7 linked regions of the Homo sapiens genome follow. The protein of the gene in region 5 purifies or fractionates together with the protein of the main gene of each other region. This does not show direct contact. Each region holds a gene or a part of one and is shown on either strand. Other genes may lie near its edges. The genes, in order: GPC6, PLCD3, FARP1, GSE1, FGF1, GPC4 and SDC4.

Region 1 (3,500 bases), on a different chromosome or scaffold from region 5:
AATAAGTGGGAGATAAGTATGCATACACAGGGGCACATAGAGTGGTATAATGCAGCAGTCCCCAACCTTTTTGGCACCAGGGAATGGTTTCATAAAAGACAGTTTTTCCATGGATTGGTGGGGATGGTTTGGATATGAAACTGTTTCACCTCAGACCATCAGGCATTAGATTCTCATAATGAGCACGCAACCTACATCCCTCGCATGCACAGTTCACGATAGATTTCATGCTCCTATGAAAAGCTAATGCCGCTGCTGATTCGACAGGAGGCAGAGCGCAGGCAGTGATGTTCACTTGCCTACTGTTACCTCCTGCTGTATGGCCCAGTCACTAACAGGCCACACACCATTACCAGTCCATGGCCTGGGGGTTGGGGATCCCTGGTATAATAGACACCGGAGACTAAGAAGTAGGGAGGGTGGGAAGAGGGTGAGGGATGAAAAATTTGCTCTTGGGTTCAATGAACACTATTTGGGTGACAGGTACGCTAAAAGCTCAGAATTCACTACTATATAATTCATCCATGTAACCAACAACCACTTGTACTCCTAAAGCTATTGAAATTTAAAAGAATAACAAAAAAAAGGATAATGAAGATTAGCTAAGCCATGCTATGATCATCAGCTCCCATCTGAGGGTCCAGCTGAAAGACCATATCCTTTGCCTTCCCTTCTAGGTACAGGCATAGGAGGCAATTCTAAAATGAGAAGGGTGGGCATCTCTGCTGGGGGACTGTTGAGAGTTGTCTGCCTCATCAAGGAAGAGACATGTGGGAAGAAATCATTTCTTTCTGTGCCTCTAGGCATTGTCATGAGGCCTTAGCTCCTGGAACTCTAGCCATCATCTTGTGTTTATTTGGAGGTGATCTGGTGGAACAAGGATCTGAGAGCCAAAAGACAGAGAGAACCTGGCACCCTGTTGATACTGCAAGCTTACAGCTTTCTCACTCCTGCAAGACTCTGCACTGGGACTTCTTGTTATGTGAAATAACGGCTTGCCCTGACTATGTAAGCCAGTTGAGTCAGGAATTTCTGTGACCTGCTGCCAAAAGTATCTTAACTGACACAGACTACTTGAGTTGAGAGTTTCAACAGCTCATCCTCTAAACTCTTTTATTGGAATTTCTAAGCAGCAGAGTGAAGTTTTTAATTTTTTAAAATTTTCCCTTTTAATCTTGTTTCTTCCTTCTCTCATGGCCTTATTCACCCCTTCTTCACTCCTCTCATCCTCCTCTGAGACCTTGGCAATCTCCTGCCTAAGCCTCTAAAATTTAAGTGTCTCCTAGCTGTCCTTCTTCCCTCCCCAGGGGCCTTTAATGATCTTTTCTCTAATCCATCCTGTGATACTGCTTGCCTAATCCAAAACAATACTTTCGTCATGTCACCTCTCTGCCAAGAACCTGAGATGATGACCTACTTTCTGTCATATAAAGCCTAGAATTTTCAAGGCCCTCCAAAAATCCAATCCCACCCTATCTATTCAATATCAGATTCCTTTCTGTGCTCTCCTCTGCACACCCTATTTTGCTCACATATTTAATTACTCCCTAACTGCCTCCTTCTTTCATGGCCCTTTGTCAAATGCTACCCATCCTTCAAGGCTCCAATTAAATTTTGCCTCCTCCTTTCAGCTTCAACCTCTCGTTGTTATTATAATCAGTAATGATATTTGGTACTTAGATTAAAACAATGCTATGTCAGTAGCTTAAGTACCAAATATCATTACTGATGGAAATTATGGCACAATTTGATTAATTCTCCATTAGGGTAAAAAATTTGAAGTTTTTTTTTCACTGACAGAGCAGAAAGTACTGTGACTTAAATTTCATAGTGAATTGTAGCTGATTACATGTATTTTGATAGTTCTACACTTTTGAGAGTTAGCAATTCATCTGATCCTATTTGAGAAATCTCTTTCTCTCAGTGACACTGATACTGTTAATAGTCTTCTGCTGGTTTAATGATATTGAGTTTTGTCTCCATTATGAAGCACACAAAAACTATGCTAAAGTATTTTTATTGCCATGGTAATTCAATTAACATTTCTGGGACACTTACTTCTCTCTTCTCTCTCTTCCTTCCCTCTCTCTCTCTTGCACTCTCTCTCTCTCTCTCTCTCACACACACACATACACAAACACACAACCCAGTCCTTATTCATTGTCAGTCACATAGTAGATGCTAAGTAAGTAACTTTGATCCATTTCACCTACTAAGTATTTCTTGAATCCTTCCTATTTCCATGGTCACCACTCTAGTCCTAGCTAGCCTCTCCTCCTTTTCCTGTATCTGTTTTTTCCCCTCAATCCTTTCTCTATAGAGCAACCAATGTAATATTTCAAAACTGTATCCAATCCTGATTAAAACACTTATTCAACAGCTTGTTAAGGGACTCAGGCTAAAGGCCAAAGTCACTGTAGTGAGTTTGAGGGATGTCAGGACTGATGGGGGTGGGGGAGGACGACATGACCCCCAGGTGGCAGTAGCACACAGTGAGCTTAATTTGGAAGACACTTTGGTTGCACGTGAAGGAAAGTCCCTCACAGCATGAGACCTTGCAGGGCTAACAAACGGGCCACCACCCAAAAGGGCAGAAGGTCAAGGAACTCCCAGGGGAGAAGGGCATTATGACCCAGGCAATGTCATCAGCAACAGGGTAGACAGCCTCAGGGCCAGAGAGCTGCTAAGGGCTGCAGCAGCTAGGAGTCTTTGATCACCCCAGGGTTGTCTTACATATGGCTAGCAGACAGGTACAGTTTTACAGAGTGCACAAGGCAAACATGCTCTAAATGGTTAAAAATCTGCTTCTTTGTGCTATATTTGAAACAACTGGATGTGTAGAAACTTGACTTTAGCACTACTGGGCTTTTTAACTAAAGGTTCAGGTCTGCTGTGAAAAAGGGAACAACTTACGGTCAAGAAGCAGGGGTTACCTTTGGATTCTTTCCGTCTATGTAAGTCATTAACCTGACCTTTGGGCCCCCTTCTCCAGTCTCCCACACCCCTCTCCCCACTCACTGACCAGTCTCCCCAGGGACTGGAACCCTCCTCATGTTTGCAGGGTATTCTCACCACACAGGAAATTTGTGCCCCTTCCACACTCCTGCTTCCTTACTGAAGGGCGCCCATGCTTCAGAACCCATTATTCTGCCTCTGATTTGATCAAATGCTCCTATAAAATGCTTTCACAGTGCCAGGTGTCCTTAGTGCTATGCATTTATCTCAGTTGGAATTAATTCATTGTGAATGGTGTCCTTAATTTCTGCTTCCCTGCTGGGATTCAAATTCCCTGGGGTTCTACCCCCAGAACCTGGTACAATGACTTACCCATAGTAGGTATACAATAAATACTCATTGCATGAAGAAAAAAATGCCTAGAAGAAAGAGAGAATGGGTTATTAAAATACCCAATAACCTGAATAATGTGAAAGTGTGAAACCAAATTTTGATTTTTTTTTTTTTGGCTACTAACTGGCACATTCATTTAAAACATATTTTTC
Region 2 (3,500 bases), on a different chromosome or scaffold from region 5:
GACGGTCGTTGTTGGAGTGGTCACACTCCTGGGGAGCAGCAGGAGAAGCTCAGAGGAGGCAGACACTCCAGGAAACCTGGCCCCTTTGACCCATCTGTCATCTACCACATCTGAGAAGGCAATGGTCCCCATTTCACAGGTGGAAAAACAGAGTAAGACTTGTGACTCTAGCTCACACAGCTGGTAAATTACAGGGCAGGATTTTTTGGTTTGTTTTTTAGGTTTGTTTGTTTGTTTGGTCTTGCTCTGTTACCCAGGCTGGAGCGCAGTGGCATGATCATAGCTCACTGCAGCTTCCAACGCGTGATCTCAAGTGATCCTCCCACCTCAGCCTTCCAAATAGCTGGACAGCTGGGACCACTGGTGTGCACCACTGCACCTGGCTAATTTTTGTATTTTTTGTAGAGATGGGGTCTTGCTGTGTTGCCCAAGCTGATCTCAAACTCCTGGCTTCAAGCAATCCTCCCGCCTAGGCCTCTCAAAGTGCTGGGATGACAGGGGTGAGCCACTGAGCCTGGCCGGCAGGGCTGGACTTAAAAGGTCTCTCTGGTTCAGTGCCTGCCCCTCTGCACCATGACCTACCCCAGGAATCAAGATGTGGAAGGAAAAATGGTGACCCTGGGCCAAGACAGGGCCCTTGGGCCCTCACACTCCCCTAGGTGGACACGTTACTATCCTGACATGCACATATTCACACCCAGCATCATTGAACAAGTCAATGAGAATTCATGGAGCATCCCTGTGAAGCTGTGGCCCAGGGGTCCAGCTGCCATGGGCTCTCCTGTCTTTCGGGGTCACAGGTGGGTCCCACCATCCACATGCACACAGAGGTCTGCCATGGGCTCCAGCTGGGCCATAGCTGCAGAGCCCACTCCTGTGTGCCCCTGTGCTCCCATGCATGAGGTGCCAACACGTGCCACAGTGGAGGGTCTGCGTGGAGAAGGGTGCACACGTGTATCCGTGCACATGCACACCTGTAGGCTGGCTCCTGCCTGTGCCCCCACGTGCAAAAGGTGCCTTGCAGACTCAGGGAAATGAAAACAGCTTTGCTGCTCACTTTGGAGGGGTAGGAACTGAGGATGAGGAAAGTTCTGGGCCCCGGCTCCCCACTCCCTTCCTGGCCCAGTGGCCTCAGGGGAGGCAAAAGGCTAACTAACCCCAGATGTTGCCTTTGTGCAGGGAAAGGCTGCTCGCTCCAAAAAAGCTGCAGGTGGAGAGGGCAGGGGAGCTGATGATTCAGATGGCTGGGGGCAGGCAGAGGTCAGAGTGATGGCAGAGCCAGGGGCTGGGGTTCAGGGCGGAAGCCCACCTTGAAGAGGAGGTAGGCGTACATGTCGTTCATGTCCACGTTGACCATTCTCAGCAGGCTCTTGATCTCCTTGAAGCTCATCTTGCTGTCCTGGTTGGAGTCAGCCCGGTGCAGATAGGAGTGGATCCAGGTGTGGGTGCTCAGGAAATAACAGCAACACGCCAGGCTGCCCCCAGCCCTCAGGTAACTGGCTGGTAAGTCACCCCCACCTGGGTCTGGGGGATCCCCAGTTTAGGGGCTGTACTTTCCCCTTGGCCTGTGCACTCCCCGAGCACGGTAGCAGTGTCTCCTCCGCAGGACTGGGGCTTACCAAAGACAGGAGGCCCTGTCTTCACCCTCAGAAGGCCTCAGGCCTCCCTGAAGGAGGCGCCGCGCCACCCCTCCTGGTGGGAGCTTGGGCCTAGCCAGGGCGCGTGTCCCCACCCTCAGTTTCGAAGACCAAGGGCTCCGACCCAGACCGTGCGCCCTCAGGACAGGGCCCTGCCTTCCCTGGGCGTGGGGGCTCTCCAAGGATGGGGCTCTCCAAGGTTAGGGCTCTCCAAGGATGGGGCCCTCCCTCCCAGCCCCGGCAGGATATTGGTCTAGCCGCTCGCGCTGGCTCATGGCGTCCAGGCGCGCGCGGAGCTTGGTCAGACCGCGCACCCAGCGCTGCGCTTCCTCAGCCGTGGGCGCCGCCAGGTCCAGGTTCTTGCGGCGGCCCTTGAAGGCGATGGTGAGGCAGCGCGCTGGCGCGAAGGCACCCCCGAAGCGCCGCAGGCCCTCGGACTGGTGGCCCTCGCGGACCGCCTCGATGTGCTGCACGAAGACTGAGAGGAGGGCCGGGTCAGGGCGGAGGACCGGGCCTGTCCCCACCTCCCTGTCCGCCCGGCGCTCCCCGGCCTCTCACAGATGTGCTGCGATGGCGCACGCGGGATGCGCCGCTGGAACCACACGCTCAGGCCGTCCTCCTGCAGCCGGTACAGCCGCTCCTTGTGCCACGTGCGCGAGCGGATCTTGCGGAGCCGGGAGCCCCGCAGCATGGCGCGCACGTCCTCGTCCTCCGTCAGGCCTGGCGGGGCGGGAGGACCCGGGGCGTCAGGCCGTACCTGCCCAGAGGCTCCCCTGCCCTCCCCCGCTAGGACCTGCTGCCCCATCCTCCAGCCTCTCCAAACCCAGGCCTTCATCCCACAGTAAGCTTCCCTCCCCCTCACAGGACTCCCCTCCTCCCCGATTGTAAGAAGCCTCCTGCACTGGGTTTGGCTTTAGGCTTTGGAGCCCTAAACGCCCCCCAACCCGTACCCCATCTCCCTCCTTCCTTCCAAGCAGCGGCCTCTGCAGTCCCTCAGTGTGGAACTGCCCTCGGACAATGCCTGGGACTCAGGCCTCACTAAAGGTTGCCCTTTCTGGCAGGGCGCGGTGGCTCACGCCTATAATCTCAGCACTTGGGAGGCCGAGGTGGGTGGATCACTTGAGGTCGGGAGTTCGAGACCAGCCTGGCCAACATGGTGCAACCCCACCTCTACTAAAAATACAAAATTAGCTGGGTGTGGTGGCACATGCCTGTAATCCCAGCTACTTAGGAGGCTGAGGTTGCCATGAGCCAAGATTGTGCCACTGCACTGCAGCCTAAGCGACAGAGTGAGACTGCGTCTTAACAAAAAAAAAAAAAAATTGCCTTTTCTGCCACTATCCCCCACCACATGGCTTCCAGCCTTCAAGTCCAGAATTTGCCACCAACAGCCTTTTTCCCTTGATGTGAAACCGTAGCCATCAGGAAGGTCTCACCATCTAACCTAGATCTCTCTTGCTGTAACCCAAGCACCTTGCCTCTGCTTTCCCAAAGACAAGGAGGACAGCAGAGGCCACCCTGGCTCCAGGGTCACAGGCCAAGGACTCCAGGATCAGCCCTGCCCAGCTGATCTCCAGGCATGGGAGGCTGAGGCATGAGAATCACTTGAATCCGGGAGGCGGAGGTTGCAGTGAGCCAAGATTGCGCCACTGCACTCCAGCTTGGGCAACAGAGTGAGACTCTGTCTCTAAAAAATAAATAAATAAAAGCATCTCCTGTGTGCAGGCCCTGCTCATGTACTAATAGACAAGGAAACTGAGGCTCAGGGAAGCTTAAGTAAGTTGTCAGAATTCCATACTGGTAGAAGCCACTTTGGGCTCTGGAGGTCGGGGTCCAGCGCCTCTGACCTTTGGCCCTGCACTG
Region 3 (3,500 bases), on a different chromosome or scaffold from region 5:
GTAGAATTTACTGCCAAGAACCTCCCCAGGCGGATGGGGAGAAAAGAAAAACCGGGAGCAGGTATGGCTGAAGATGGATGATTCTGAGGCTTTTTTTTTTGTAGGGGGGCGGGGGGGAACATGGAGTCTTGCTCTGTCGCCCAGGCTAGAGTGCAGTGGCACGATCTTGGCTCACTGCAACCTCCACCTCCCGGGTTCAAGCAGTTCTCCTGCCTCAGCCTCCCAGGTCGCTGGGATTACAGGTGCCCGCCACCGTACCCAGCCAATTTTTGTATTTTTGGTAGAGACGAGGTTTCGCCATGTTGCCCAGGCTGATCTCGAACTCCTGACCTCAAGTGATCCACCCGTCCTGGACTCCCAAAGTGCTGAGATTACAGGCATGAGCTACTGTGCCTGACCTTGAAGCTTCTTTCTGACTGATAGAGATGAGGAGGGGAGAAAACTGTCTTCTCACATCACCACAATTGATAAATGTATCCTGGCATCCCGTCTCTGAGATCTGGCCCTTCTGATGTTCCCCACCAACTGGGCTCACCTTATGTTGTCTGCTAGCTTCTGTTTGGCTCACTGGGGAATATTGACAAACTGGGAAGTGTCATTCCTACGTGACCTGTTTTTCTTTCTGTTTCTTTTTAGCTGAGATTGGGGATTTTGATGAAGCCTTGGACAGAGAGCACTTAGCAAAAAATAAATACATACCTCAGCAAGACGCACTAGAGGACAAAATCGTGGAATTTCACCATAACCACATGTAAGTCTCATTCTTGGCTTCATATTCCCTCTGAGCCGGTTCTCTCTGCCTCCAACCTACATGGGTGTACATCCCTCCACCCCCCACACAAACTATTGTGGAGAACAACACAAAGCGTGAGGAAAGAAGATCACAGAGGCTCATTGGGATGTGGTGATTCATCCTGGGCTCTCAGAAGCACAGGTCACCCACTGAAGCCTGGAGTTTAAGGATGCCCATGCTTTGGAACAAAAGAGAAAGTAAGAGCAAAGGACCATCCAGTCATCAAGCTAATGACAAATTGGGAAAGGGACGTGGTCACCTAGGGACAAGGTCAGAGTATCGTGAAAATCCAGAACCTTCATAGCATCTGCATTTTTGTTTTTGTTTGGATTAATATTTTCAAAGGACTCATGGTACTTTTGGTTGTTGTTTTAAGGAAGCATTGGAGCCTGACGGCCATGTGAAAAAGTGTTCTCTTGAACTTTGCTTGCAGGTTTAGGTTATTGAAAGCAACTAAAATCTTGTTTTAACCCAGTGGTGTTTTGCTTTTATATGAGCTTAAAGGAAACTCTTTGAGATTCCAAAAAAAACAAAAAAAACAAAAACTGGCTGAGTTTGGAGACTTTTGGGGTTTTATGTTCCATGAGCAGTGGAGGTTTTGTCCTAGCTGCTAGACTTTGGGTTACAGTGAATGGGAGATTGGGTGTCATCTGATCGGGTAGCCCCAGTGTTTGTGATGAAATGCCTTTGTATTTCCCAGGAGAAGCTTCTTAATCTCAAATTAATAGATACAGGGAATTCAAATCTCCTGGCCTTTCTGTTTAATTTTTGTTTTGTCAGTGGACAAACACCAGCAGAATCAGATTTCCAGCTCCTAGAGATTGCCCGTCGGCTAGAGATGTATGGAATCCGGTTGCACCCGGCCAAGGACAGGGAAGGCACGAAGATCAATCTGGCCGTTGCCAACACGGGAATTCTAGTGTTTCAGGTGAGAGCCTTGAGAACACGGCCTGGTTCCCTTGGTGACAGAGAGAGAAGAGCTGGCCCTTCAACTCTGATTCATATTCAGTGGGCTAAGACCTCTGATGGTTATTTTTCGGCGAACAAAGAAAAATTAACCTCATCTCAGGCTTTCTGTTTCCCAGGCCCTCAGCTCCCAGATTCTATTTCACTTACCTTTGCCCTGTTTGGGGAATCCACATTACAGATTTGTTTGGTTTTATTGACTTTGTAGCATCACAGAAACATGTAGCTCTCCATGGACCTACACTTAGAACACAGTCTAATGGAATCGAGATTTTAGGTCCCCGAATAAACACCTTTTTCACACTTACAGATGATACTTTGCTGTAATGTGATCCTTTTTTTTTTTTTTTTTTTTTCAAACACAGTTTGGCTTGAGCCAGCTTATTTGGTCGGGACTTCAGATATACTTAAAGAGTGTTAGGCACACTTTTAAGATACAGCAGTTTTATAAATTCATAAAAGCCACATTCTTGCAATTTTGTAGCAAAACACATACTGCACTTGAATTCTTACTTGTATTCTACTTAAAGACATAATGATTCTCTGCACTCTAAAATGTGTGCTCTATTGATCATTCTGCTATTGGACTGTTTCATTGATCAATGCTTCTCTCTTAGTAGCCTTATTGAAGTATTGTTGACGTACAATAAAGTGCACACACTTGAAGTGCATAGTTTGATAGGTTTTTATTATATATATGTATATCCTGTAAAATTCCCCACAAAACCAACAGAATGAACGTATTCATCACCCCCAAAAGGCTGTTCAGTACATTCCTTTTCAACACAAGTGGGTAACCTGTGCTTTTAGTTTCAAAGGGATATAGAGAAAGCACCCGCCTTTCTCATGAAATAGGATCAGATTTCACCCAGTTAGGAAGTTGTAAATATGTTCAGGACCTAAAACCCTTTATTGAGCTCTTCCAGGTTTGCTTATATTTCCCCCTTATCTTTTATCAAAAGAGTTCCAGTGATTCTCTATTCATGCACCAGAAGTTTATGACAGCATAATTATTACAAATCACATCCCAAGAAGAGTTAAGTTGGCTTCCTGCCAGGTAGTAGGGAGTGACATTGTGAGAGCAGTGTGGTATTCAAGGCGGATTTTTTCTTGACAGTTTTTGACCTGCACGCATAGCCTCTGAGTATCGGATAAGAGAAACAATAGGCCGGGCGCGGTCGCTCACACCTGTAATCCCAACACTTTGGGAGGCTGAGACGGGTGGATCACCTGAGGTCAGGAGTTCGAGACTAGCCTGGTCAACATGGTGAAACCCCGTCTCTACTAAAAATACAAAAATTAGCTGGGCATGATGGCGTGTACCTGTAATCCCAGCTACTTGGAAGGCTGAGGCAGGAGAATCGCTTGAATTTGGGAAGCAGAGGTTGCAGTGAGCCAAGATCATACGACTGCCCTCCAGCCTGGGTGACAGAGCAAGACTGTCTCAAAAAGAAAAACAATAAAGCCAAGTGGAGTTTTGAGTACTATCATTAAATTTCAAATCACAATCCTGAACCATTTCTAAAAAGTATTAAGAAGGAAAAGAAGTGTCTCACAATTGAATTAATGTGCTTTGATTGTGTTTGACACAATCCCTAAGTATTGGGAATACCTGGGTAATGTAGTCACGTGCAAAGCCTGTGTCTCGGAACCCACCTTCTTGCCAGTGCCCTATTGCTTCATTCTTGCCACGTTAAATGAACAGGCCTGGTGTTCCAGTGGGCTCCAGAGGAATTCTAAT
Region 4 (2,189 bases), on a different chromosome or scaffold from region 5:
TTCCATCCAGCATGTTTGTACTCTACATGCTTGTCCTTACAGAGGAAACGGGTTGGTTTTGACACAAATTTCCCTCTCTCCAGGAGTTGAGGAGCCAGAAACAGAAGATGGTCTCAGAAAGGGAGCGGCTCCAGGCAGAACTGGACCACTTACGAAAGTGCCTTGCCTTGCCTGCAATGCACTGGCCTAGGGGCTACCTGAAGGGATATCCCAGGTGACGGTTTCCCTTGCACTAGGCCGAACCTATAGTATAGAAATATTATCTATTTTATTACCTTGAATATTTAATATTTTTCACTGGGAGGTTTGAAGCTTACAAAATGAGAATGTGCCATGCATGAAGCAAAGGATTCCAGGCTCCAGAAAAAATGAATGAACTCACCTTGACGTCAATGCAATTGAATCACCGTTGTCATTCAGCGAGCAACCAATGTAGGATTGCCCACAGTTTTTCTTTTTAAAGGTGGTTTTCGCCCTTCCTCTCCCACATTATTTCTTAATCTGAACATGAAGGCTCCATTAGCAACACTAAAACTTGATCATTAACAGCCCCCTGTGCATATGAGTGGATCAAACCGGTTCTGTTCTTTCTTGTGTTGCCATGTTACTATGCCTCAAGCCCAGTTTGCTTTTGCCGCAGCGATGGGGCCAGTCTCATTCCTCCCCAGGAGTGAAACTTGCTTCAGCTGAAAAGGTTGGGTGCATTGTCAGTAAAAAGGGCTTATTTGTTTCATTTTACTTTCCTGCAAAATTTTCTTCAAAGCAACAAGTCCTAGGAGCACACAAAGCAACCCAAAGGCTTTTCCCTGGAAAAGCTCTTTCTTACCTAAAGATAAAACCAATTCACAAACTGAAGGTAGCTTTTTATTACTCCGTGGGGAGCATGTACAGAGCTCTGTGTATACACAGCTTCACACCCACCAGATTGTTACTACAGTGGGTTGGGTTTTCATACAGACGTAAATTTTGAGAGAAAAGTCAAAGGTGCTTCAGCCTTGTACTGTGTATATATATTAAAAAAAAAACAAAGTTTTGTATGTTTTTATTACTTTAACTATTGTTATAAAAAGCCTGCCATTTTTAATATGTGGTTTGGGGGATTTTTGTTTGTTTTTCCTGTTTGGGGGTTTTGTTTGTTGTTTTGGTTTTTTTTGGGCAAAAAAAAAAAAAAAACCTTGCTTTTAGTGTTTGTACTGCTGCTGGTCAGGACATTAAAATATTGAAGTGTTTTTAAAAATTAAAGAAGAAGAAAAGTAAAAGAGCTTACCACTGGCGCCTATGCGATCACTTCATTTTTAGTTTGAGTTGCACCAGAAGCTGCCGTAGAAAGCCATGCGCTACTGCTTACCTCCTCCACTCCCCCTGCCTGCCCCCAGCATCTGGACAAGCTAATAGCAAATATTACCCATTGCTATCAAGGGAGGAGGGGGTAGTCTGTAGAACCCATGTGTGACAGTCATGTGCACACATGGGCGGGGGCTTTTAAAAACCTTTCAGGAAGTCAATGATTTCTGTGATTGATATAATTCTAAGGTGTCTGAGAGCAGGTACAGAATAGGAACTTCAGAGGCTTTGTTTAAACGCAAAGCTTTGTAAAAGCCACAAGGTCTGAGCTGAACCCCTCCTTTTTGAACTTACTGTGACAAGCACAGGAACGGTCAGAAACTGGGCTCATCACACCAAGGCAAAGCAACGGGCGAGTCTTCCTCCTTGTCCTAGTTACTGCCTATGGAGGCAGTGTTTAGATCAAGAAGGCCTCTCTTGCTCCCAAGGGCCCTCACCAGAGGCCAGGGCTGCCAGTCACTGGTCTGGGGGGTGGAGGCCTGAGCTGAGGGCAGGGTGCCTGACCTGTGTGCCGGCTGCTCACTGCTGTGACCAGCAGCCGAGCCCTTGGCCCTAGCCCTTGCTGCGCAGAACAGCTTGCTGGCAGCTGGCATCGTGTCGCTTTATCTGCCCCCGCACAGTTTGCTTTGTACGTCTGCCAAGAATCTTCCAGTTATTAGCAAACTCAGACGAATGTACCGCCAGTATTATCAGCAGTCAACAAGCACCTTCCTCTCCACAGAAGCAGCTGGAAGAGAACTCGAGGGGCTGTGCTGCAGGCCTCCCCTCGAAAGACACTGGGAGGTCAGCATGTTCCACAGGTGTTCAGAGGGAGTCTGCTACAAACTATCAGGGCAAAATCTCAC
Region 5 (3,500 bases):
CCCCAAGTGCAGGGACCATGGCTGGCGCTGAGCGTAAGTCCCAGCACCTAGTAGATGAATATGTGTTGACTGAATGGTTTTCTGTCCCCCAACCCTGAGCTGCTACCCGAGGAAAAAGCTGCTGCTGTGTGGCCAGCCCCTCCCTCTCTTCCCAAGGCCCCACTTTCTCATGCTCTCTCCTTCCTTGCCTGTCCTCAGCAGCAGCTGCAAGAGGATGTAGGTCTGGAAAACTGGAATGAAGTCACACTAGAGAGCTGGACACCAAGCCAGCTACACAAGCCGCTCAGCCTGGGTGTTGCTCCTTCCTGCCAGCCCTACTTGCAGAAGGATATATGTTTAGGAAACTTAGCCAGAAAGAAATCTAGTGAAAATGAGCTATGAAACTTGGACATCCTGGAGAAATAATATTTACAGAGGAAACTTTTGAGACGAACTCTCACCGGCACAACAAACCTGGTGTCGGGACTCATGGCTGAGGGCTGAAGTCATGTGCTAAGCAGGCCTCTGGCTCTTGTTTACCTCTATGAGGCCTCTTCATGGCCATGATGGAACTCCACAGATGGCAAAGCCAACCCTATTCAGCCCCATGGCCAGACAAGTGGGTGCTATTGAAGGCAGCAAAACAGAAATGCATAGGAAATGAAAAGCTTTTTAAAAATCTTCTTTGATTGGCTGGGCACGGTGGCTCATGCCTGTAATCCCGGCATTTTGGGAGGCCGAGGGGGGTGGATCGCCTGAAGTCAGGAGTTTAAGACCATCCTGGCCAACATGATGAAACCCTGTCTCTACTAAAAATACAAAAAAAAAAAAAAAAAAACTAGCCAGGCATGATGGTGCGTGCCTGTAATCCCAGCTACCTGGGAAGCTGAGACAGGAGAATCGCTTGAACTGGGAGGTGGAGGTTGCAGTGAGCTGAGATCACACCACAGCACTCCAGCCTGGGCAACAGAGTGAGACTCCATCTCAAAAGAAAGAAAAAAGAAACAAACAAACAAAAAAAACTTCCTTGATTACCTAAAAAGACCTCCCCTTTGGGGTTTCTGTCGCACCTATAATGTGTTTGACTAAATATCTACATATATGGGCGATAGGTTGAAAAGAGTCCCAGGCAACTAACCTCACTCCATTCCATGGCTACAGATGGGATCCTGGATGGCCACCCACCATCTTGTCCATGTGTGATCTTGAACACAAGAGGGTCCAAGCAGGAGAGTATCGCTGGATTTGGATCAATCCATTCCCATAATTGGAGCCCAAGAGATTGTGTGAAAGACAGGAAAAAGTAGGATACTTGGAGTACTCGACCTGGGGTCTGGTCATGATTTTTCCCCTTCTTAGAAGTATAACATTGCATAAAACACACTCTCACCAAACTTCAGCTCTTCACCAAAGGACAGAGCAAGCACCACCTTCCTCCAGGGAACACTTCGAGGAGAAAAGGCCACAAAAGCACAGAGGAAACAGTCATACGAGTACTGGCCACTTTCCATGCATTAGCCCTTACAACAACTCCCACTATAGATAAGGAAACAGAGGCAAATACTTTGCCCGATGATCACACAGCTAATAGGCAGCCAAGCAGAACTTGAGTTCATGCAGTTGTGTTCTGGAGCCCACACTCTTTAATTTTATACTGTTTATATCAAGATAGAAACTAGCATGGTGCCTGGCACATTGTAGGTGATCAATAAAAGTTAGCCCCTTCCTTTGATCTCTCTTAAACATATAGGATTATGCTGAGAAATTGACACAAAAGTATATGTGAAGGTTCTCTGAAAACCATAAAGTCTGATAACCATTTAAAAAAAAACCAGCTTTATTGAGATAACACACATACCATACAATTCACCTATTTAAGTTGTACAATGCAATGGATTTTCTTACAACTTAACAGAGTTGTGCAACCAACACCACAATCCATTTTAGAATATTTTCCAAAAGAAGCCCCATGCCTTTTAACCATAATTCCCCCATCTCCACCCACCCTGGCCCTGGATACCCTGAATCTACTTGCTGTCTTTATGGATTTGCCTATTCTGGACATTTCATTTAAATGGAAACATAAAACACATGGTCCTTTGTGATGCTTTCTTCCCACTCAGCACTGTTTCCAGACTCATCTGTGTTGTGGCATGCCTCAGAACTCTGTTCCTTTTTATTGCCAAAGAATATTCTATTGGCATTCCATGTATCTACTTGCTCCATAGACTGTTAGACTGAGAAATAACTTTATGGAGACTGAGCGCAAATACCCCTCATTTTACTGAAAAAGAGACTGTGTCTAAGAGGCTATGCAGCCTAGCCAAGATCACTCAGCTCAGAGCCCAGCCTTGAGCCTTACAACTCTCCACGTGGTCCCATCTTACTGCCCCCCTCAGAGAGTTATTGGAGACATAATTCAAAGTGCACAGCTTATTGATAATGGGCCAGGAGAATCATCTCTGCCAATATTAGCCCAACACCATTCATTCACCAAATAATGTAGACTGCCCCCTGTGTGCAGGGCACTGTAGGAGGTGCTGAGGACCCCAGAGGGAACAGGACAAGATCTCTGCCCTTCCTCTCAGAGTGTACACTTTCCTGAGGAGGCAGAAATAGATCAGTAGCTCCCTAGATAATAAAATCATTGCATGTTGTACTAAGTGCCATGAAAGAAACAAGGGGCAGAGGAGGAAGAGGATGTGGGGGAGGGTGGTATTGGCAGGGAGAATGGGGTGGGGATGAAAGGACCCCGTGCGCAGAGTGTCACACACTCTGGGGAGGGCCTCTTTTAGGATATTTAGGCTGAGGCCTGGAGGAGAAGGACCTTGTGAATATCTGGAGGAAGAATGTCCCAGAGAGAAGGCTATAGCATGTGCAAAGATCCCAGGAAAACAGGGAAAGTTTGAAGTTTAATAGGAGCAGAAAGAGCGAGCAAGTGGTGTGACTGAAGGCTCGAGAGAGCAGGGCCCAGCTTACAGTGGAGGCCCATAGGCCTGTTCCCTCACGGCTACACTCTCAGAGCTAACCATTCCTAGGAGGACCCGTGAGAAAGTGCATCAGTGGCTTCCAGTTCCTTCCTGTGAATTAAATAAACTCCAGTTGCCACTGGAAGCTAGAGGAAGTCCTGAGTCTCTATAGCAAAGACTTCCAAGGAAGGGAGAATTGCATCTTAGGTAAAGGTGATGAAACTATGAATCATCCTGGGGGTGAATCAGGAGATAAGGAAGGCAAAGAGAAATAAGAAAATACAGGCATATTAACAGAGAAATGGTTAAACAATTATGGTATAGCTACATAATGGAACACAATTCAATCAGCAAGAAGAAAGAAGTTTACTCTTTCCATCCTGATGTAGAAAGATCTACAATTAGTTGTTAAGCAAAAAAAAAAGCAAGGTGCAGAACTGTGTGCTCAGTACATTACCATTAGTATGAGATAGTATGTCTTTTGCAATATACGCACACAAGCTCTCTAGAAAGGATACACACACAAGGTGTCTAGGAGGGGTTTCCTTGTTT
Region 6 (3,500 bases), on a different chromosome or scaffold from region 5:
TTCATTTGTTATTACTGTTTTAAAAATTGCATTTCATGGAAATCTATTTGTGGTTTGTGACATCGGAATTGTAGTTTAGAGAAATGACCCCGTGCATTAAAATGTTGTGTAGCATTTGTTCTAGGTTGAAGGTGAAAGCTTGATGACTAGATTTGGTTTCATTGATATGCTGATGCCTATGCTGCTTTCCACTAGAAAGCTTAGATAGAAGCTCAGCTGGGGGCTGCAATTGTCAGCTGTGTTCTTTGGGTAGGACACAATCTTCCGGGAACTAGCTCTTCTTTCAAGTAACCATCCTTGCACTACCTGAAGATGATAGATAATGTGGGTCTAACTCCTTTCTTGCCATGCACTAAGCACTAGAGTGTAAAGGGGGGATAAACAAGTTTAAAAGTTCACTGTTTGTCGTTAATGAAGCATCCTTTTTGTCATTTGGGGTTTTCATTTCCAAGTTCTTCTAATTTTGTAAAACAGGTAGCAGGCAAAAATACTAAGCCTCATAATCCTAAGAAACATATATGGCAAGAAAACAAAGACAATGTATTTTATTGAAGCGATTCAGTGCTTACTGGAAAATGCCATGCTACTCCAGAGTCTAAAGCAGGATAATCGGTGAAGATATATACTGTGAGCCCACTAATTTTGTGTACTGTATCTTGTGTCATCTTCTCACTTGCAAAAAAAAGGAGGTACATGCCTTAAGATAAATTGAAGCCATTGTATTTGCAATGAGAAGTTTTTCTTAATACAAAAATTGGATTATTCAAAGTTTTAGTATTTGAAAAGTCATTAGAATTCCTAGGAACCCTTTCATTTGTATTATCCAACGGTGCACTCAAGGATCTGAGGGGTTTTGTTTTTAAAAACAAAAGAAAAGAATTAATATGCCAGCATCTTAACTGATTTATGTTTTTGACTCTTGTAAATGGAATGTGAAACGAGAAGATCCTAGGGAAGTCTCTGGGAGAGCTGGCATGTTATTTTGTCTCCAGCCTTAGGTTTGTCATCTGGGAGCTAACTAAGAGCCTTACAGTGACAGTGGCTGACACACGAATAATCAGTATTGAGGAAAGTTCCTGATTGGGTTTCCTTGCTGTAGAACTAAGCCTTCATCTGGCCATTTCACACTTTAGAGAGCTAGTGATACATAGTGACTAAATGCAGTTTGGTGTAAGGGAAATAGACATAAAAACAAGAATTCATTATGATCCATGCCTTACTTCCCCTGCCCCCATGCAGGAAACAGACAGAAAAAAAAATCAGATTGATTTACCCAAGGCCAAACTAATGATTGACTTTTTATGCTGTATTGTTCTTCCCCAAACCTCATATTAGATGCTATGCTGATGGTGGCAGAGAGGCTAGAGGGTCCTTTCAACATTGAATCGGTCATGGATCCCATCGATGTGAAGATTTCTGATGCTATTATGAACATGCAGGATAATAGTGTTCAAGTGTCTCAGAAGGTAATGAAGGCAGGATGCTGGAAAGGGGAGCTAGGGACCTCCCCCGCCTCCGCCTCCCGCCTTGGGAGTGACTTCCCTAACATGACGACACTTACTCTAATGCAGGTTTTCCAGGGATGTGGACCCCCCAAGCCCCTCCCAGCTGGACGAATTTCTCGTTCCATCTCTGAAAGTGCCTTCAGTGCTCGCTTCAGACCACATCACCCCGAGGAACGCCCAACCACAGCAGCTGGCACTAGTTTGGACCGACTGGTGAGCGTTTTGGCAGGAAGGGCCGTGTTTAATGACAAAGAACTGAAAACTCTTGCTCAAAATGAATTTTTAGCTGGAAGGCTAACAAGTGTGGGTCTTTCAGGTGTCACTTTTCAAGCAAATAGGATGTGGATGTCAGTCAATCTGCCTGTCCCATTTTCTAGCCCAGAAAGTTCTTGGGTAGCCAAGGAGTTATGATGCAATAAGTCTTGTCTCAAAATTTCTCTTTAGATTCACCATGCATTTATTGAACATCTACTATGTGCCCATCACTGTGCTAGGCATAGAGAAGCTCAGAGAAATAAGGCAGATCCTTGTTCTCAAAAGGCACCAACAAGGAGGCAAAGAGGGAGAAGTAGATGTTCCAGGCTTATTAACATAAAATGATGTTTAGTAAAAGCTGAGATGGGAGAAAAGTGAGTAACTGTAGGCAAATTGCTTTATCCACAGTAATATGCTACAAAAATGTAAGAAACTATTCCTACAGTAGTAGGAACACAGAAGAGGGAGCCTGAGGAGACAGGGATGGAGAGAAAGAGCAATAGCAGCTATGTTTCACAGAGTGCATAATATACATGCTTGATCCTGACTCTAAAAGCCTTAGGAGAAGAGACTGCATGTTATCTTTGTGCCTACAGGGCATGGAGACTGGTAGGCCTCAGATGGTACTTACAATGAGGTGGGCAAGGGGTCTAGGCCACTCCTTTGGAGCTTGCATTTCAACTATTATTTGAGTGGTTTTGTACTTCTAAGATATAAATTGGAGTTGCATCTTCCTCTTCTAATTAAAGTTGAAAATGAATTGCATATCACTCTGGAGATACTTTGGAAATGGCCAGAAGGCACACTTGTAGGTAGTTTTGTCTTGTCTTACAATGATCTTTTTTTGTTGTTGTTGTTTCATAATTAGGTTACTGATGTCAAGGAGAAACTGAAACAGGCCAAGAAATTCTGGTCCTCCCTTCCGAGCAACGTTTGCAACGATGAGAGGATGGCTGCAGGAAACGGCAATGAGGATGACTGTTGGAATGGGAAAGGCAAAAGCAGGTTAGTGTCTGTTGAATGAATTTGAAGTTTCTCCCTTCCTAGATGCCTGGGTGACCTTCAGAGAGGGTTCTCTCAATTGTCAACCGAGGCATCAGGAAGCAATTCACAGTAGGTAGCAACAACATGGAAGGCTTCTAGGTGTTCTTAGGAACAGGCTTTGCACTAGGAGTGTTGAGAAGGCACCCAGTTACTTACAAAGAGTGCTGAGTCAAAAGTTTGACAGTAGTTATAGTCTCGTATTAGGGCTGTTCCAATAGTGTCATTATTTTTAAAATATTTAATGCCTGTGGCTCTTTGTCCAATGGCCTAGCCTCATAAATAACCAGTTCTCAAAGGTTCCATTCTCTGACTTGATGCCCTGTGTCCCTCCCTTAGACGCTCAGTAACTTAGAGAAGTACCCATACTTTTTTTTGTTTGCTTGTTTGAGATGGAGTCTCGCTCTTTTGCCCAAGCTGGAGTGTAGTGGCACAATCTCGGCTCACTGCAACCTCCACCTCCCGGGTTCAAGTGATTCTCCTGCCTCAGTCTCCTGAGTAGCTAGGACTACAGGTGCCTGCCACCATGCCTGGCTAATTTTTTTTTTTTTGTATTTTTAGTAGTGACAGGGTTTCACCATGTTAGCCAGGATGGTCTTGATCTCCTGACCTTGTGATCCGCCTGCCTCAGCCTCCCAAAGTGCTGGGATTACAGGTGTGAGCCACCGCACCCAGCCAGTACCCATACTTCTTTACTTC
Region 7 (3,500 bases), on a different chromosome or scaffold from region 5:
TTCAGTTTTCTAATCTGTAAAATGGGAATAATAAAGATAGTACATCAGTGTTGTGGGGACTGAACTGACTTAAAGCTTTTGGCACCTACCAAGCACTCAGTACGTGTGTGTTTGGTTTAAAAAAAAAATAAATTTTATGGCCGGGCACGGTGGCTCATGCCTGTAATCCCAGCACTTTGGGAGGCCAAGGCAGGCAGATCACGAGGTCAGGAGTTTGAGACCAGCCTGGCCAACATGGTGAAACCCCGTCTCTACTAAAAATACAAAAATTAGCCAGGTGTGGTGTCGAGTGCCTGTAATCCCAGCTACTTGGGAGGCTGAGGCAGGAGAATTGCTTGAACCCGGGAGGCAGAGGTTGCAGTGAGCTGAGATCACGCCATTGCACTCCAGCCTGGTGACAGAGCAAGACTCTGTCTTGAAAAAAAATAAAAATAAAAAAATAAATTTCATTATGTGCATACAACATGATATTATGGGATACATATAGATAGTAAAAATGTTACTACAGTGGAGTTAAGTAATATATCCATCATCTCACATAGTCGCCCAGGAAATGTTTTAATATTGCAGTTAGAGTTTTCTTTCTCAAAAGTTAATTCCCTGGGGATCTTGTTAAAATGTAGATTTTGGCCGGGCGCGGTGGCTTACACCTGTAATTGAAGCACTGTGGGAGGCCAAGGCAGGCGGATCACAAGGTCAAGAGATCGAGACCATCCTGGCCAACCAACATGGTGAAACCCCGTCTCTACTAAAAATACAAAAATCAGCTGGGTGTCATGGTGCACCCCTGTAGTCCCAGCTACTCGGGGGGCTGAGGCAGGAGAATCGCTTGAACCCAGGAGGCAGAGGTTGCAGTGAGCCGAGATGGCACCACGGTACTCCAGCCCAGGCGACAGAGAGAGACTCTGTCTCAAAAAAAAAAAAGTAGATTTTGATTCAGTCAGCCCTGAAATTCTACATTTCTTCTTCTTTTTTTTTTAACCAATGAATTATTTTTACTCTTTTTAAATAAGTGAAATATTAGCTTTAATGTTTTCTGATCATGACAATATTTTTAGATAAGAACATTTTAAACATTCAACAGTAAGAGACTATTGAAAATAAATGAAATTCATTGAATAGAAGTAATTAAAATAATAATGTAACTCTTTAAGCATTGTAATGGAAAGATGTTAATGATATATTGTTACGAGCCCATTATTGGGAAAAATGTATTTAGGAATACGTATGGAGGGAATTTATTTATTTATTTTTTTGAGACGGAGTCTTGTTCTGTCGCCCAGGCTGGAGTGCGGTGGTACCATCTTGGCCCACTGCAACCTCTGCCAACCGGGTTCAAGTGATTCTCCTGCCTCAGCCTCCCAAGTAGCTGGGATTACAGGCGCGTGCCATCACCCGTGGATAATTTTTGTATTTTCAGCAGAGACGGGGTTTCACTATGTTGGCCAGGCTGGTCTCGATCTCCTGACCTCAAGTGATCTGCCCGCCTTGGCCTCCCAAAATGCTGGGATTACAGGCGTGAGCCACCGCGCCTGGCCTTGAAATTCTACATTTCTAACCAGCTCTCAGGTGTTGCTATTGGTTTTTGGATCCACACTTTGCAGAGCAAGGGTTTAGAGCTGATGAAGCCTCTGCCCAGCTGCCAGCTCACACATTCCTGTGAAAGAGCCAGGGGGTGGGTCTGAGGAGCCCCATTTTACAGATGAGATGACTGAAGTAGGGGTGGGGAAGCTCGCTTGCTGGACATTGAGCATTTGGAAGCTGGTTGTAAGGTGGAGCTCCCACCAGTCCTGGCTGAAGGGGTCATTTTCCTGGGGTAATGGACCTCACTCACACAGCTATTCTGACCTTACAGATGACTTGGAAGACTCCATGATCGGCCCTGAAGTTGTCCATCCCTTGGTAAGTAGCTACATGCTTCTGCCTCTTCCACTTTGCTCCTCTATAGCAGACCTATTGGGAGAGGCAGAAAATACAGCCCCCATAGGCAGAATAAGTGAGGGGTCTTACCCCACTATGCGGGAAGGCTTTTTAAAAATCTGGCCCTGGGGTGGGCATGGTGGCTCAGGCCTGTAATCCCAGCACTTTGGGAGGCTTGAGGTCAGGAGTTCAAGACCAGCCTGGGCAACACGATGAAACCTGTCTCTACATAAAATACAAAAATTAGCCAGGTGTGGTGGCATGTGCCTGTAGTCCCAGCTACTTGAGAGGCTGAGGTGGGAGAATGGCTTAAGTCCAGGAGGCAGAGGTTGCAGTGAGCCAAGATTGTGCCAGTGCACTCCAGCCTGGGTGACAGAGCCAGACTGTGTTAAAACAAACAAACAAACAAACAAATCTGGCCCCAGGCTCATTTTGTAGGTTGCTGGTAGGCCATCCTCCCTGCAGGGATAGTCACCGTCAACACCAACTCCTTTTCTCTACATTTATAGCTATTTCCTAGCATTGATAGAAAAGTATATATATAGGCCGGGCACAGTGGCTAATGCCTGTAATCCCAGCACTTTGGGAGGCTAAGACGGGCAGATCACCTGAGGTCAGGAGTTCGAGACCAGCCTGGCCAACATGGTGAAACCCTATCTCTACTAAAAATACAAAAAATTAGCCTGGCACAGTGGCGTGCGCCTGTAGTCCCAGCTACTTGATTGGGAGGCTGAGGTAGGAGGATCGCTTGAACCTGAGAGGCAGAGATTGCAGTGGGCAGAGATTGCACCATTGCACCCCAGCCTGGGCGACAGAGACTCCCTCTCAAAAAAAAAAAAAAAAAGTATATATATATAATTCTATGAACTGCGTTTTTCACTTAGACTGGTCATGAGTATTTCCCTGCATAATTTAATGCTCTTGTCATTTTTATAGGCTGCGTAATAGTTTACCTGATTCCCTTTATTGACGGAAAAATGGCTTATAATTTGTTAACATTTTAAAATTATAACACTGCAGCAAACATCTTTTTTATTTTTGCAAAGCAATAACAAGTTTATTAAGAAAGTAAAGGAATAAAAGAATGGCTACTCCATAGGTAGAGCAGTGGCATTGGCTGCTGGTTGCCCATTTTTATGGTTATTTCTTGATTATATGTTAAGCAAGGGGTAGATTATTCATGAGTTTTCCAACAAAGGGGTGGGCAATTCCCAGAACTAGGGGCTCCTCCCCTTTTTAGACCATATAGAGTAACTTCCTGACTTTGCCAGGGCATTTGTAAATTGCCATGGCACTGATGGGAGTGTCTCTTAGCATGCTAATGTAGTATAATTAGCATATAATGAGCAGTGAGACCAACAGTTTCATTGCCATCCTGTTTTTGGTGGTTTTTGGCAAGCTTCTTTATTGCAACCTGTTTTATCAGCAAGGTCTTTATGACCTGTATCTTGTGCAGACCTCCTATCTCATTCTGTTACGTAGGATGCTTAACTTACTGGGAATGCGGCCCAGCAGGTCTCAGCCTTATTTTACCCAGCCCCTATTCAAGATGTAGGCACTCTGGTTCAAACACCTGACAT

The links.
Region 1: the proteins of FGF1 (region 5) and GPC6 purify together in Homo sapiens (affinity purification with mass spectrometry, with the first as the bait; one large-scale study listed by BioGRID). This does not show direct contact.
Region 2: the proteins of FGF1 (region 5) and PLCD3 purify together in Homo sapiens (affinity purification with mass spectrometry; one large-scale study listed by BioGRID and IntAct). This does not show direct contact.
Region 3: the proteins of FGF1 (region 5) and FARP1 purify together in Homo sapiens (affinity purification with mass spectrometry; one large-scale study listed by BioGRID and IntAct). This does not show direct contact.
Region 4: the proteins of FGF1 (region 5) and GSE1 purify together in Homo sapiens (affinity purification with mass spectrometry; 3 studies listed by BioGRID and IntAct, with this or other methods). This does not show direct contact.
Region 6: the proteins of FGF1 (region 5) and GPC4 purify together in Homo sapiens (affinity purification with mass spectrometry; one large-scale study listed by BioGRID and IntAct). This does not show direct contact.
Region 7: the proteins of FGF1 (region 5) and SDC4 purify together in Homo sapiens (affinity purification with mass spectrometry; 3 studies listed by BioGRID and IntAct, with this or other methods). This does not show direct contact.

Annotation. Positions count from the first base shown.
Region 1 is NC_000013.11:93,233,307-93,236,806, reverse strand, and holds part of GPC6 (glypican-6 precursor), read right to left. Parts: intron 1-3,500. UniProt on the Homo sapiens protein: Cell surface proteoglycan that bears heparan sulfate. Putative cell surface coreceptor for growth factors, extracellular matrix proteins, proteases and anti-proteases. Enhances migration and invasion of cancer cells through WNT5A signaling.
Region 2 is NC_000017.11:45,119,016-45,122,515, forward strand, and holds part of PLCD3 (1-phosphatidylinositol 4,5-bisphosphate phosphodiesterase delta-3), read right to left. Parts: intron 2,358-3,500; coding exon 2,196-2,357; intron 2,116-2,195; coding exon 1,887-2,115; intron 1,440-1,886; coding exon 1,310-1,439; intron 29-1,309; coding exon 1-28. UniProt on the Homo sapiens protein: Hydrolyzes the phosphatidylinositol 4,5-bisphosphate (PIP2) to generate 2 second messenger molecules diacylglycerol (DAG) and inositol 1,4,5-trisphosphate (IP3).
Region 3 is NC_000013.11:98,384,094-98,387,593, forward strand, and holds part of FARP1 (FERM, ARHGEF and pleckstrin domain-containing protein 1), read left to right. Parts: intron 1-636; coding exon 637-751; intron 752-1,573; coding exon 1,574-1,721; intron 1,722-3,500. UniProt on the Homo sapiens protein: Functions as a guanine nucleotide exchange factor for RAC1. May play a role in semaphorin signaling.
Region 4 is NC_000016.10:85,672,322-85,674,510, forward strand, and holds part of GSE1 (genetic suppressor element 1), read left to right. Parts: intron 1-83; coding exon 84-218; 3' UTR 219-2,189.
Region 5 is NC_000005.10:142,602,591-142,606,090, reverse strand, and holds part of FGF1 (fibroblast growth factor 1 isoform 1 precursor), read left to right. Parts: intron 1-3,500. UniProt on the Homo sapiens protein: Plays an important role in the regulation of cell survival, cell division, angiogenesis, cell differentiation and cell migration. Functions as a potent mitogen in vitro. Acts as a ligand for FGFR1 and integrins.
Region 6 is NC_000023.11:133,303,990-133,307,489, reverse strand, and holds part of GPC4 (glypican-4 precursor), read left to right. Parts: intron 1-1,335; coding exon 1,336-1,466; intron 1,467-1,571; coding exon 1,572-1,718; intron 1,719-2,628; coding exon 2,629-2,765; intron 2,766-3,500. UniProt on the Homo sapiens protein: Cell surface proteoglycan that bears heparan sulfate. May be involved in the development of kidney tubules and of the central nervous system.
Region 7 is NC_000020.11:45,331,425-45,334,924, reverse strand, and holds part of SDC4 (syndecan-4 precursor), read left to right. Parts: intron 1-1,855; coding exon 1,856-1,902; intron 1,903-3,500. UniProt on the Homo sapiens protein: Cell surface proteoglycan which regulates exosome biogenesis in concert with SDCBP and PDCD6IP.